Linked DNA regions of Homo sapiens: region 1 is linked to region 2. The links come from fine-mapping of genetic effects on gene expression. Tissue or cell type: whole blood. Region 2 holds a variant in brackets; the other region holds the start of a gene. All regions are shown on one strand. Distances are from middle to middle.

The links. PIP is the estimated chance that this variant, and not a neighbour inherited with it, causes the effect.
Region 1: GRIK4 starts here. The variant in region 2 is fine-mapped to the expression of GRIK4 in whole blood (TOPMed, PIP 0.97).

Annotation. Positions count from the first base shown.
Region 1 is chr11:120,508,365-120,516,839 of GRCh38, forward strand. GRIK4 (glutamate ionotropic receptor kainate type subunit 4) reads left to right here and starts at 3,384. Exons shown (of 21, transcript NM_014619.5): 1 at 3,384-3,523. RefSeq lists silencers at 2,995-3,074, 3,255-3,454 and an enhancer at 7,893-8,475.
Region 2 is chr11:120,808,697-120,813,696 of GRCh38, forward strand. The region is part of intron 4 of GRIK4 (glutamate ionotropic receptor kainate type subunit 4); the gene reads left to right. LOC105369532 (a long non-coding RNA gene) reads right to left here. Exons shown (of 3, transcript NR_133008.1): 3 at 2,649-2,782. Among named protein-coding and RNA genes, the nearest start is that of TBCEL, 210 kb to the right of the region's middle. The variant ACT/A (reference allele first, on the strand shown) is at 2,944.

The sequences.
Region 1 (8,475 bases), 300 kb before region 2:
GGTTAATAGGAACTTGTGTATCAGTGTGTATGTGGGAGGTAGGGTGGGGACTCTGGGCAGAATTCAGTGTGTTAAAGGCACAGAGGTATGAAATGGGATGAGCAGAGAACTCAGTGCTGCTTGGTACTGACTGAAGGTGAGATGGACAGAAATGGATGATGGGTGAGGTGGGGAAGTAAGCAGGGAACTTGTATGCTGTGCTAAGAAGTTTTGGACTCGAGGCTGGGTGCGGTGGTGCACGCCTGTAATCCCAGCACTTTGGGAGGCCGAGGCGGGCAGATCACGAGGTCAAGAGTTGGAGACCAGCCTGGCCAACATGGTGAAACCCCATCTCTACTAAAAATACAAAGGTTAGCCGGGCGTGGTGGCGGGTGCCTGTAGTCCCAGATACTCAGGAGGCTGAGGCAGGAGAATCGCTTGAACCCGGGAGGCAGAGGTTGCAGTGAGCCGAGATTCCGCCACTGTACTCCACTCCAGCCTGGTGACAGAGGAGTGACTCCGTCTTAAAAAAAAAAAAGTTTTGGACTCAATATGAGGTCATGAAGGGGTTTTCAGCAAGGGTGTAAAGTGGTGAAGCTTGTTTTAGAGACATCACTCTGGCAGCCATTTGTAGACATATTGGAGGGAGCCAATTTAAAGGCAGGGAGATGAGCTAGAGGGCCGCTGCAATAGTTTCTAAGACATGGTGACATGATATGATATGTGCCACTCAGCAAGGTGACAACAAGTCACCTGCTCACCGTGTGCCTCAGCTGGCCCCATTTATGCAGAGGGATCATTATGAATGTGTGATGAACCTTCAAAGGGACCTTCGGAAAAGACATGGCAGGTACATTTAAGATCAAATATTCTTCTTAGTGGATATACCAGAGGCAGATAGATGGAAGAAATTAAAGATAAATCCAAGAGAACAAACTCCTTCCTGTGCGCTCCGACCACCATGGCGCCCAAGCACAATGAATCCTATCCGTCCTGCACAGCATAGCAGCTGGCTGTGAGGGATGTTTCAGATGAGAGGTTCTAGAGGTGGGAGCCCCATTTCCCAACCCTTCTGTTTTTTCATTCAAGGCAGCAGCCTCAGAGTAGATCAGCGGGGCCAGCCTCGTGGCCCTCTGACATTCTCCCCCTGTGGCTTCCAAAAAAGATCTGGACTGACCTTCCCACCCCTGGAGCTGAGCTTGAGAAGTCAGCTTGCCTGGAATTGAATTTTTTCAGTAGTAAAAAAGGTGGAGAGCAAGTAGTAAGTATCCCAAAGAACTCAACATCTTGCAGCAAGGGGAGACAGGAGAGTGGGTGGGGGCAACCAGGCTGAGGCTAACAGCAGACTTCTGTACCGGCAGACTTCGCTGACATTGTTGTCCACCCTGTGACTGGTAGGGACTCCCTGCTTCTAGGGGCAGAGGCCTTAAGAAAGGAAAAGAAAGTCAGAACCATTCTTGCAAGAAGGGGAGAAACCAGGGCCCTCAGGAGGCCACAGCCAAGACTATCTCCAGAGCCATCAGCAATCTCTCTGACCTGCCAAAAGCTCCTCCCCGCTTCCCTGGTTAATAGGATGAGATCACCAGGCAAAAGAATATGATGAAGCATTTCACTTATATAGTATTTTTCTTTCCAAACACTTAATAAGCCTCTCTGGTCTCGCTGATCTTGCATTCTTCCCGTGAAAGGGGCCAGGGATCCATGCTTGGCATTTCAGAGTTTGCGCGGCTTGAGAGATCATCTAGTCTGCTTCCCTCACTTTTAGAGTTATGGGAACTGAAGTCCAGGGAAGTGAAATCGCTTGCTGGGATCACAGGGATGCCTCTCCCTCCTCCCAGCCCCGTACACTTTCTGCTAGGCTTATGCTGCTGTTCCGTCCATTTTGCACAAGAGAGGGGGTTCCAGAGTGGGGGAATAGAGTTGGAATTAGAAATTAGTTTTGTGTCACTGGCTTACAGGTGCTCTTAAACCTTAACAGGTTTAACATCCTCTGTAAAATGGGACTAGTGTCACCTCAACACCTACCTTGCAAAGTTGATTATTGGGAATCACACTTGTGTAAGCGGTATAGTCTTGGCAAACAGTAGGTGCTAAATAATGTCTGGCTGGAGGAATGGAGCCCTGTTCGCATATGGCATTCATCCAGCCAGTGTGTGGAGCTGGGGGAGGGATAGGCACGACTCCTGAAGCAGGAGGCCCAGTACGCGCCCAGGCTAGCCAGCCAGCCCTCCCCGGGGAATGCAACGTCCAGAACAGTCTATAGTCCCGATAGTATGCCTCATGCGTGAGACCTGACCAAGGACGTCTGTGAACAAACCCTTCACAGAGAGCTTAATGAGATTGTGGGAGTGCTGGTGGTTGGGTGTGGGGATACAGGCCATTGAAGGTGAGAGGGCCGGTGTGATCAGTTTGGTGGTCTGCCCAAGACAGAGACTCTGCGGGTTGGATAAGAGGGAGCTAATAGGTTTGAGGGGGTCACGTGTCCCTTGCCCTCCCTCCTATTCCCCCAGGACTCCCTCTTCACCCAGCCTCCTCCTAAGGGCAACTCTGTTGTATTAGGATGAACCACACGGTGTACTGAAATGAACCGCGCGTCAGAAAGCGGGGTTGCCTCCTGGGTCCTGCCACTTGCTCCCCGTGTGTTCTTGGCCTGGTCCCTTCACCTCTCCTAGCCTCAGGATCTTCATGCGTAACATGAGATCCTCCCAAGATGTTGGTATGTATACAACAGTGCTCTGGAATGACTCCATGCAAGCTGTTGCTCTTCAGTCTCCTGAACAAGGTGCTCTTGTCTCGTCCCATGAAACCTCCACCTCTCCATCTTCCGCACCACTGAGGCCGCAGTCTCTTCTAACGGGGCACGCTCGTCCCCCGCGCTGTTTCCCGAATGCCACCAGGGGGCGCCCCTTGCTCGCTGAAGCCGCCGGGCTAATAACTCCTCGGGGCCGGGGCGGGCTGCCCCTTTGCGCAGGGCGGTGGAGTGTGCGGGCTGCGCCGGGTTCCCCACCTGAGGTCCGTACCTCGCAGAGCCCGCTTGGCCGCGCGCCCCTAGCCTCTGCCGGGCGCCGCTCCCCAGCCGGGCGCCTCTCGCTCGGCCCCGGGCCCCCGGGCAGCCGCAAGTTTGCCCCCGGCCGCGCGGACCCGCGCCCGCCCTGCCCGCAGCAGCCCCCGCCGTTCCCGCCGCCCCCGCCGCCCCCGCGCCTGGGCTCCCGGGCGACGCTCCGAGGGGCGCTGGGGGGCGCGTGCAGCTGCCCGCGGGGCTCCGGCCCGGCCCCGAAGGGGCGCCCCCCCGGCCGGCCGTGCGCGGGGCCGCAGCAGTTCCCCAGCTGCCCGCCGGGCGGCGCCCCGCGCCTCGCTGCGCTCCTCCCGCGCTCCCCGCGCCGGGCTCGCTCGCAGCCGGACACAGACTGCCTTCAGCTGCGGGCGGATCGGGCTGGAGCCGCCACGGCTGCTGCGGAAGAGGAAAAACGGCCAACAGCAGCCCCGCGGCCGGCCCGGCAGCGCCCGGCCCCCGGCTCAGCCCCCGGAGTGCGGAGCCGACCAGGTAAGGGCAGCGGCCCCCCGCGGCGCCCCCGGCCCGCTCCCTGCGCTGCCCCCGCGCCCCCGAGTCCCCTCCGCGCTGGCCCTTCCCGCACCCCGACTTCTGACGTCTCCGCCGCTCCTGCCCTCGGGGGCCGCGGCCCCGCACCCCTGCCCCGGCCCCCGCCCCCGCGCCCTCCTCCCCGCTCCCGCCTCCCGCCAGCCCGGTCCCTGGCACTTCGGTCCCTGCGTCTCCAGATTCGCCGCCGAACCCCCCACCGCTCTGCTCCCGTAGTTCCTCCAGTCTTCACCCCGGTCCGTCTCCCTCCCTCCGCATCCCTTCCCCGGGCTCGCGGTCCTCCCGCTCTGGTCCTCCCCCTCCCCGTGCAACTCCCAGCCCTGCCTCTGTCCCCTGCAGGGATGACAGCCCCTTCCCAGCCTGGCGCGTCTCCCCTACACCTCGTCACCCTCCGCTTCTCCCAGCGCCTCTGTTCCCCGGCTGCAGCCCCCCATCCCGGCTCAGCCTGGCATCCCACCAAGCCCCCTCCCCCTTTCCTCACTGCCATCTGCCTCGACTGCCCCCTGCCCCTGCACTGGACTCGGGCCACCACCACACCCCCCCACCCTGCACACCGCCTTGCTTGGGGGAACCAGCGTCCTATCAGAAATGATCCTCTTTCCCGGGGAGAATGGGGCTCCCACCCATCCCACCCTAGTTCATCCGAGTGGGAAGTGAGGGAGAAACTCTAGAGACCTGCAATGGGCGCGTGATGGGGGAGGGGGCTGGGGCGGAGGGGGAGGGGAGCTGATTTAGATTCTCTTCAGTGAGGACTGGCAGAGCTGTGCGCTCCGACCTGGCTGGGGTGGAGGGCGTGCAGGCGACAGCTGGGACAGGGGGTTCAAGGCACTGAGAGCACCTGTGTCTCTTTCCCTGGCTCCCTTGAGCTGAGCAAAGTGAGGGGAGGAGTTGGAGCCTGGGGAGAGTTGGCTGAGGGCCTTGGGGTGGTGGAGGAGGCGGCCGAGGGGGCTGGGCCCCGGGCGCCTCTGGCCCGTCTGCCTGGCAGTGGTGGGGCAATGCGGGCCGAGCCACTCCCGGGCTGGACCTTGGGCTGCGTGGCTCTTGGCATCTGTACTTGATGCTGCCATCTTCCTCTTGGTGCTGTTGTCTGGTGATGCCACGCGGTGCCACCTCCCTGCCTCCCTCCAGTGGCTCTCCTGGGCATGTCTCCCAAGGGTCTGGGTTGTCTGGGAAGAGGAGGGGAGCTCTGAGCACAGCTGGGCCCTTTTGCCAGGCAGTGGGCAGCTGTCAAGACCAGGCCAAGAGGTCTGAGGGCTGGTCAGGAGGACTGAGCCCTGCCAGGAACAAAGAACTACCTTCACTTTCACTCCCTATGGGTCACCTGGTTGGTAGTGACACTTCTAGGAGCACCGGGAAACTGCGGGCGTGGTATCTCCGGGGAGAGAGGCCGCCTGGGTTGGTAGTGGGCATCTGAGAGACAAATCCGGTCCTGCCTGACTCCCTGACTGTCTGTGCTCGCGTGGTCAGGGGCGAGGGGCTTGTCGAGGTCCACTGTGTTCCGGTCCCACCAGGGATGGCAGCCCCTGGAATTCCACTGGGCGTCATCATGCTGGCTTTATTTGCTGAAGCTGCAGCTCAGGCTTCATCATTAATCAGGTTTATTATTTTTCTCACTGGCCAGATGTGTTCCTCAAGGTCACGACCCTTCGGAGAGTTAATCTAATATGCACACATTACAGTGTCTGGGTTTGTTTAATTTTCCATATTTTGTTCATTCCTTGTGGCCCGGGCTTGCCCACCAGCCTCCCGCCTGCCTCACCAGCTCCACCCCTCTGTCCTCCTCTGGACCTGCCACCTGAAACCCAGAGGCAGCACTGGTCCCTCCGGGTGGGGAAGAGGTGGATGCTCGGGAGGGGAGGTTGAGAGGGGATCTTGGTTTTCTGTGTTTTTCCCATCCCCCTACCTGGGCATCTTGATCGGTGGCTGCTGTCTTCCCCAGCAATGAAAATTCTTCCGAGAGCCTGGGTCGGCTTCGTGGTCTGATTTCCACTTTGGTTTTCCCTTAGGATGGAGAGGGAACTTTAGTACCGGGAGAGAGGCAGAGACTCTAGGAGAAAGTCCCAGCTGCAGGGAGTCAGGGCATCCAGGAGAGAGGAGCTCAGCTGCTTCTGAGGTGGTTCTCAGCCATCCAGAGATGGAAGGGAGGACAGGGGGACCGGCCCTGGGTTGGGGGAGAGACTGCTCAGAAGGCAAGAGAAGCAGCGAGGCGGAAGCTGGCCTTTGTGTGGCTGGCGAGGGTGGGCAGCGCCAAGCGTGTGTGGGAAGGATGCATCTCTTGGTGCTTCTGCATAGTACTAATCCCTTATGTGTGTATGGGGTTCTGCAGCATTCCAGATGCCTCTCAGAACAATTACTTCATTTGATCTCTACTACAGCCCTGCAAGCATCTGATCGCTCCTTACAGACAGCCTTATAAGGAGGCATTCATGACCCAACAGAAACTGAGGCTCAGAGAGGCTGGATGCCTCATCCAAGGCTCCACAGCTGGGTCCCAGGCCCCTGGACGCTCAGTCCAGTGCTGTTGGGCTCGTTGCTGTTGCTTTTTAAGGTCTCAGCTGTTTGGTTCTCAGAAAGCCCACCCTTGGTCCTGCCTGTTCCTCAGTTCATCCCCTTCGCCCTCTCCAGTGATGGCTCACCGTTTTCACCCCCACCCCAGGCCTGGTGGAGTCTTTGCTCTGTAGTCTCCTCAGCCTTAGACTGGCTGCCTGGGTGTCCCGCCACTCCCTAGACCCAACCAACCACCCCCTACCCCAAGTGGGCACTGCCTCTTGCCTCCTCCTTGTGGAAAGAACGGCTGGGTTCCCCCAGGCATGCAGCCGGGGTGCCTGGGGCACCCTCCTTCCCTCTCTCTGGTGCCTTAGGCCTCAGCCCACTCAGTTCTTCTGGGCACTTCGAGTGTCCACTCCGACCTTTGCTCTCCCACTGCCGTGGTCCCTACTTGGGCCTTTGGCTGTTCACCCTGAGTTACGGTCCTGAAAGCTTCCTTGTTGGGCCTCCAGCCTCAGTTTCCAGCCATCCTGCCGCTGTGCCTGTCTTCTTACAGAGGGTAACGCTTCTCACAGGGGACCCTGTCTCAGCAGCCGTCAGTGGCAGTGCCTTCCAAGATGCCTTGCAGGTGAAGGCCCTCTGCACGCTGACCCCAACTTTATGTCACAACGTGGTGTCTGGCATGATCTTGTCCCCCCTCCCCTGGCCACCCAGCCCTGGCACTGTGTGTCCTCACCCTGGCCCTTTGCATTTCCTCCTCTTTTCCTCCCATCCATATATTGCCCAGCCTTCAAGGTGCTGCTGGAAGAGGAACCAGTTCCAGCTACCAAGTATCAGGCAGACCTGGGTTCCTGTCCTCACATCACTCCCTGCATGACCTCGGACAAGTTGCCTCACCTCTCTGAGCCTCACTGCCCTCACCTGTAAAATGGGGACTCTGAGCCTCACTGGCCTCACCTGTAAAATGGGGATAAATCTCACCTGCTTCAGAGGGTTAGCAGCATGGAATGTGAGTGGGAGTGTGACTCGTCCAGTGTGAAGGGCACCTGCATGGGTATGGAGGGCACATTCTCTGAGTGGCCGCCTTCTGCTCTCCCTCTGTATGGGCTGGCTGAGCCCCCTGCTCCTACCTGGTATTGGTAATCGTCTGTCCGTTTGTCTCCCCACCCAGAGGGCAGATTCCTGGAGGAGCAAGGCCTTTGCCTGACACCTTTTCACATTCTCTGACTCCCAGCAGAGCGAGGCTGTTCTTCAACATCCTGTAAATCGGCCCTCTTCATAGTAAGGACATAAGATATAGTTGTTGCTTGATTATAACGTTCTGTTACATAAAATAGGGTATGCCTTACATTTAGTAAATCCAGTATGAACAAAAAACTTATGCCACAGTTGCAGGCTGGGTAAATTATGGGAAGGAAGGAAGGAATCAATGTAACATTGTATTGACTGCGTACTCCGTTTGTTTCGCTCAGTCAGTCCAGCTACCCGGCGAGTTAGCTGTGGGCATCTCCTTTTCCACAGATGAGGAAGGGAGTCCCAGGAGGTCACACACTCTGTCCCACATCCCAGACTGGTGAGTGCGGTAGGACCCCAGCTTCTTCCCCTACACTTGGGCATCCTCTGCCTTAAAAACCAAGAGGGAGACACTTTTTGATTCATCACAGGTTTTCTTTAAACAACTGAGCACTCAAGTCATTTACACAGAGCCCAGCAGGGATGGGGCGGTTGTGGAGTCCCCTGTTTGGGGGGTGGGCAGGACCCTTCTCTCCCACAGGGTGATAGTTTGGGTGGATAGCACACCAAGACACCCGGTCTCTGGGAACATGGCGTGTGTGTTGATTGCACCTGCCACCAGCATTCAGACCTGGCAGGAGCTGGCAGGGGTGCTCAGGAATGGGGGAAGGAAGACTCACAGTGAGGAGGCTGAGAAGGGGCTGTGCAGGCAGGATGAGGGGAGAGAGGATGATCTGAGGACTGGGCGCTCGGGCACAGGACGAGGCAAGTGGGAGAAGAGTCCCGTGTGCAGCAGAAGGCTGGAGTCAGGGAGCAGCGGATTGTCACGGTAGACGGGGTGGGTAGAACTGCTGGAATCCAAGAGGGCCCTGGCCACCAAACAGAGAAGGCTCAGGTCAGTGCAGCAGGCTCGGGGGAGCCGGTGAAGATTCGTGGGCAGAGGAGTGCTGTGCAGAAGCGCGGGTTGAGGGCTGGGCCTGGGCGCTGGTGACAGTGAGGCGAAAGGGGGGTAAGCTTGAATGACATTTTCAAGAACAGCAGAGCGCGCTGACAGATTGGATGCAGCAGATGAAGGAGCCGGAAGTGTCAGAGATAACTTTGAGATTTCCAGTGCTGGAGACCAGGGGGATGGGCGATGCGAGGGGAGTAGGGAAGCCGGAGGGGGAAGCAGGTCTGAG
Region 2 (5,000 bases):
GAGAGGAGATGGTTCTTTGGAAGTGATGAGGCAATTGTTTGCCTTGCCCTAGGATGGCCAGGGCTTCACGTGTACTCTGTGCAGTATAAACAGGCTCAGAGGGAGACTGCACCCTCTGCTCCATTCAGGCTGCAGCATCGGGAAGTGCTTCCGTGTGAAGGACTCTGAGTTCTCCCAGCCCTCCCCAGTGCACATCTCTGTGAGCCCCGTGGGGCCAGGGTTGTTTGCCATCTGGGCCCAGAGAGCACTGAGCAGCTCCTCACTGTCAGGCAGGAGGACCTGGCCCCCTGGGTCCATCCAGGAAGCTGCTCCTTCCTGGAGGGGGGCTACAGTCAGTGGCACTTACCATTAGCTCCTCTAAACCATCTGCGACACAGCCTCACCCTCCCCTCCCTGAACTGCTCTCTGTCCGGAGGAGGGACCCTGTGAAGATGCAGGAAAGGGGAAAGGAGTAAGTTCCACGACGCCCCTCACCCCACCACCCCTGTCCAGCCTGGGCTTCTAAGGGGTCTCCAATCCATTGCCAGTGCTGACATTTTGAGATGAAGAAGTCCCTCCATGGGGCCACTACACCCCATCATGGCCTTTTATTCCAGCAGCTGAGCCTTCCAACTCCTCTGCTGCCTGGGAGGAAGAGGTAAACGCATCTCCCTCCCTTCCTGTGCCTCCTGCAAACTGCTCAGAGGGCCGAGGCCTGCAGAATCAGCATGCAGGGGTTCCAGAGCTGAGACCCTTTATAAATGATTTCCATCTCTACTGAGCAGGGCACCCTTCATAGGGAACGAAAGACCAGTTCCCAGATCCCAGGAAATCCCCAGGCCATAGCCACTGCTAAGACCCTAATTCAGTTCCACTGGACTCATTTGGGATCATTTCAGTTCAGTTGAGCAAACATTTAATGAGCAATTTCTTTTTGCCAGGGCTGAATAGACATGACCCCTGATCTCAAGGCCATTTATGATCCAGTGAGGGAGATGGACACATTGACACACGTGTATGAGAAGCTCAGAATGGCAGGCGCAGGCCCACAAACCCTCGAGGCCTGATGTGTGTAGAATCCAGATTGAGACATTGGGAAGGTTGAGGGGCTGGGCGTGGTGGCTCATGCCTGTAAATCCCATCACTTCGGGAGGCTGAAGTGGGAGGATTGCTTGACGCCAAGAGTTCAAGACCAGCCTGGGCGATGTAGTGGGGCCCCATCTCTACAAAAAATAAAAAATTAGCCAAGAATGGTGGCATGCACCTGTAGTCCCAGCTACTCAGGAGGCTGAGGCAGGAGGATTGCTTGAGCCCAGGGGTTCAAGTCTGCAGTGAGCTATGATTGCTCCACTGCACTCCAGCCTGAGTTACAAAGTGAGACACTGTCTCAAAACAAACAAACAAACAAAAGAACGGTTGTGTGGTGCATGTACCATATGTAAAGTTGAATCTCCAGTAACCCCATACTCAAACAAATGCATGCTTATATTCAAATACTCACACATTGTAAATAGCTTTACATCTGTCTGTTGAGATCAGATTTTGCCAACAACTGAGTTTGATGAAAAACATCAAGTTTCAGAGCCTTTTGGACTTTGGAATTGGGAATAAGGAATTGTGGCCTTCTATAAGAATTTATTTTCAGGAGAAACTTTCCTTTCTTGGGAACCAACATCACCAGGCTGCTTGGGACAGAAGCTGGCCAGGAATTCAGAGAGCAAGGAAGCTGCGCTGTCTCCTAAAGGCGGCTGACTCAGAGCCACAGTGTGCTGTGAATATAGGGAGGGAGAGATGCCTTCTGGCCTAGGAGCAAGATCTGAGCTGGATGCTGAAGTATGAGTGGGAGTTTGCTAGGCAGAAGGGCAAGAGAAGCCTAGACCATGGTAGTCTGGAGATGCTAATGAATCCCTTCTCAGATAAATGTTTTTAAATGAATAAAAACCTTTTTATTAATAAAAAAGGATAGAAAATAAATAACAAAAATCCAATAAAATGGATAGGGTGACTATGGAAACCAGCTATATGGAAATGCAGTTATATTTTAATAGTGGTATACTAATATATATGCTTCTTCATTAATGTATTAAATAGCATCGAGCCTAATTACTACCATAATCTTGAAGTAATAATGAATATAACTGGTATTTGAAGATATCCTTAGCACTGTAGTGTCATATGAAAACTGCGGTGATTTCTGTGGGAAACAAAGTCACAGGTGCTATTAACACACTGTAGTTTGTTGCCTACATTCAAAATGGAAAGAAATGCTACATTTCACTTAGGGGTTAGAGAAAAGAATGATGTAATTCCCCCCACAAGTGTTCACAGACCCCTGACTTCTACCCACAGACCCCAGGCTACAGGTTAAGAACCCCTGATCTAGAGATAGCCATTTGGGAACAGGATCAGGCAGGAAAATATGTACAGAGTATGTTCTAGGTGAGCTGGCATGCAGCGGGAGATGGCACGGTGGGAGAAGGGGCTGCAAAGACAGGACTTAAGGAGACCAGAGTCACTCGAATTTTACTTGCTCATCAGAAGAATGTTTTTATTATAGCATTGTATTCTTTATAATATGTTATAAAAAGGAATACATGCTCATTATAGAAAGTAGTGAAATGAAAAAAGGGAAGACAATAACTCAGTGTTCCAGTGGCCAAGGCAATCTACAAACATCCCAGTTAATTGCCATTTGCTGGGGATGGCTGTGCGGTGCAGTGGTTAAGGGGCCGGTCTTTGGGGAAATGGGTGGAGCTGTTGAATCTTGACTCTGCTCTTTAATTTCTCTCTGTTGATTTTGTATCTGTAAAATGAGAATGACAGTAATAGTACCTATTTCCTCAGTTTGTTTTGGGAATTAAATATGTCAGTTCCCGTAAGAGTGCTTCGAACGGGCCATAGTTAACACTCAGTACATGTAGTCTTTAATAACATCTTCTCATAATCATTCCTCAGTGTATAAGT[ACT/A]CTCTGTATTTGCTTAGTTGTAGCCTTCATATAGATATACATATAATTTTATATCCTGCTTCTGTCTCTTAGTATTATTAAATAAATATTTTTAATACTATTATAAACTGTTCATAAGTATTTTAAATGCCTAAATAATATTCCATTTGGGCATACAGCCCACATTTTATATACTTATTCCCTTATGATTATACATTTAGTTTATTTCCAGTTTTGCATGGAAGGTGTTGAGTGGGCCTCAGTGTGGTTCAGCAACTGTTTATAGGCCACGTAACTCTGAGTCAGGCCTTGTTCTAAGTATGGAGGACACAGACATAAATAAGACAGGTTCTCTGCCTTGGGGGCACACTCCGATCTACGTTTTAGGACTATAATTTGCCCCACCGTTTAAAGAATGGATTGGAAATGAAGAATCCTGGAGACAGAGAGACTCCCTTAGAAGGGCAGGTTATAAAGAGGGGTTGACCTGGAACCATGGCAGTAGACGTAGGAAGGAAGGGCTGGCAGAGAGTGAGAAGGTCAGATGGTCGGAACCTGGCCCTTGACCTGTAAAGCAGGAGAACAGCTTGAGTGAGGGAAGGCAAGAAAGAGGCCAGGATGACTGTGGCTTTGAGCTTGAGGAGATAAGAGGAGTAAAGTAGAGTGGGTAAGAGCACTGGCTTTGGTGCCATGTCGATCCCCAAGTTCAAGCCCAGTTTGACCTTATATTACCTGTGTGATCTTAAACAAGTTACTTAAACTTTCTAGGCCTCAGCTTCCCCAGCTGTAAAGTGGAGATAAAAATGAATTTTCCTCATAGAAGTGTGGAGATCCAACCAGATTGTGAAAAATATATAACAAATCTGATATGGTGGGGATAATAATAAAAGGGTCATGTAGCATGTCAGGTACCATTCTGAATGTTAAGTATTAATTCACTTTAATTCTCACAGCAACCTTATGAGAGAGGTGTTATTAGTATCTTATAGGTGAGAAAACAGGCCCAGAGGTTTGATAATTTGCTCAAGGTCTCGAAACTAGTAAGTGACAGAGACTCAAACCCAGACAGCCATGCATCAGACTCCAAGCTCTTACAGAACTGAGTGTGAGATGCCAGAGGGAAGGCCCTGTGGCAACGTCCAGCAGGTGGTTGGAACTTGACTTTGTGACCCAGCACATAGGTGAGAGTGCAGGGTCATCTGGGCAGAGACAAGGGTGGAGGCTGTAGGCAATGGTAAAATGGCCCAGGAACAGTGAGTCAGGGGCAAAACCTGAATTTGGTGGGTGGGAGAAGGAAGAGGAGTCAGCAATGAGTGAAAGACTGACCAGAGAACTGGAGGAGAATCCAGATTGCACGGTGTTAGGAAATTCTAAAGAACAATGCAATCAGAACAAGTGCTGCAGAAAGAGAACAGGATGAGAATGGATAACAGGTCATGGTGACCTTGGAGAAAGTGGATTCAGTAGACGAGGTGGGCGGGGGGACCTCCACTGTAAGAGGCTGAGAAGTGCTGGGTGTAGGAGTGGCTGGCTGCAAGGAGCAGTGCAGACAAAGTAAGTGGCTGTGAGAGAGGAACATGAACCCTGGATGCGGGTCAGGAGACTTGAATCCAGATGCCAACTCTGGCCTTGATTAGGTGTGTGACCAGAGCGGAGGCACTTCACGTCTCTGGGGTGCTGTGTCCTTACCAGTAAAATCAGGAGATAAGACCCCACTCCCCCAAGGCAGTTGTAGGGATCTGAGGGGATGATGAACTTCAAGCACCTAGTGGGCTGTAAGAGTTAAGTTGGCTGAGGTCACATGAGATAACCCCCATGGAAGTAGCTTGGAATTTGAAGAGACTCTTCAAAGATGAAGCCTGATCATCACTACTTTGGCCAGACACTTAGTACTGATGAGTCCTCCAGTCAGCTGAGATTTTGGGATGTTGTGGGATGCCTGCCCAAGCCATAGGCTAAGAGAAGACTCCAAGATCTATAGTTCATATGGTAAATTGCAATGCTGGGATTTGAACCCTGGTGTTCTGCCTTGCTGCCTGTACCCCGTTCAGATGATCACCTGGCTGTATTGGACTC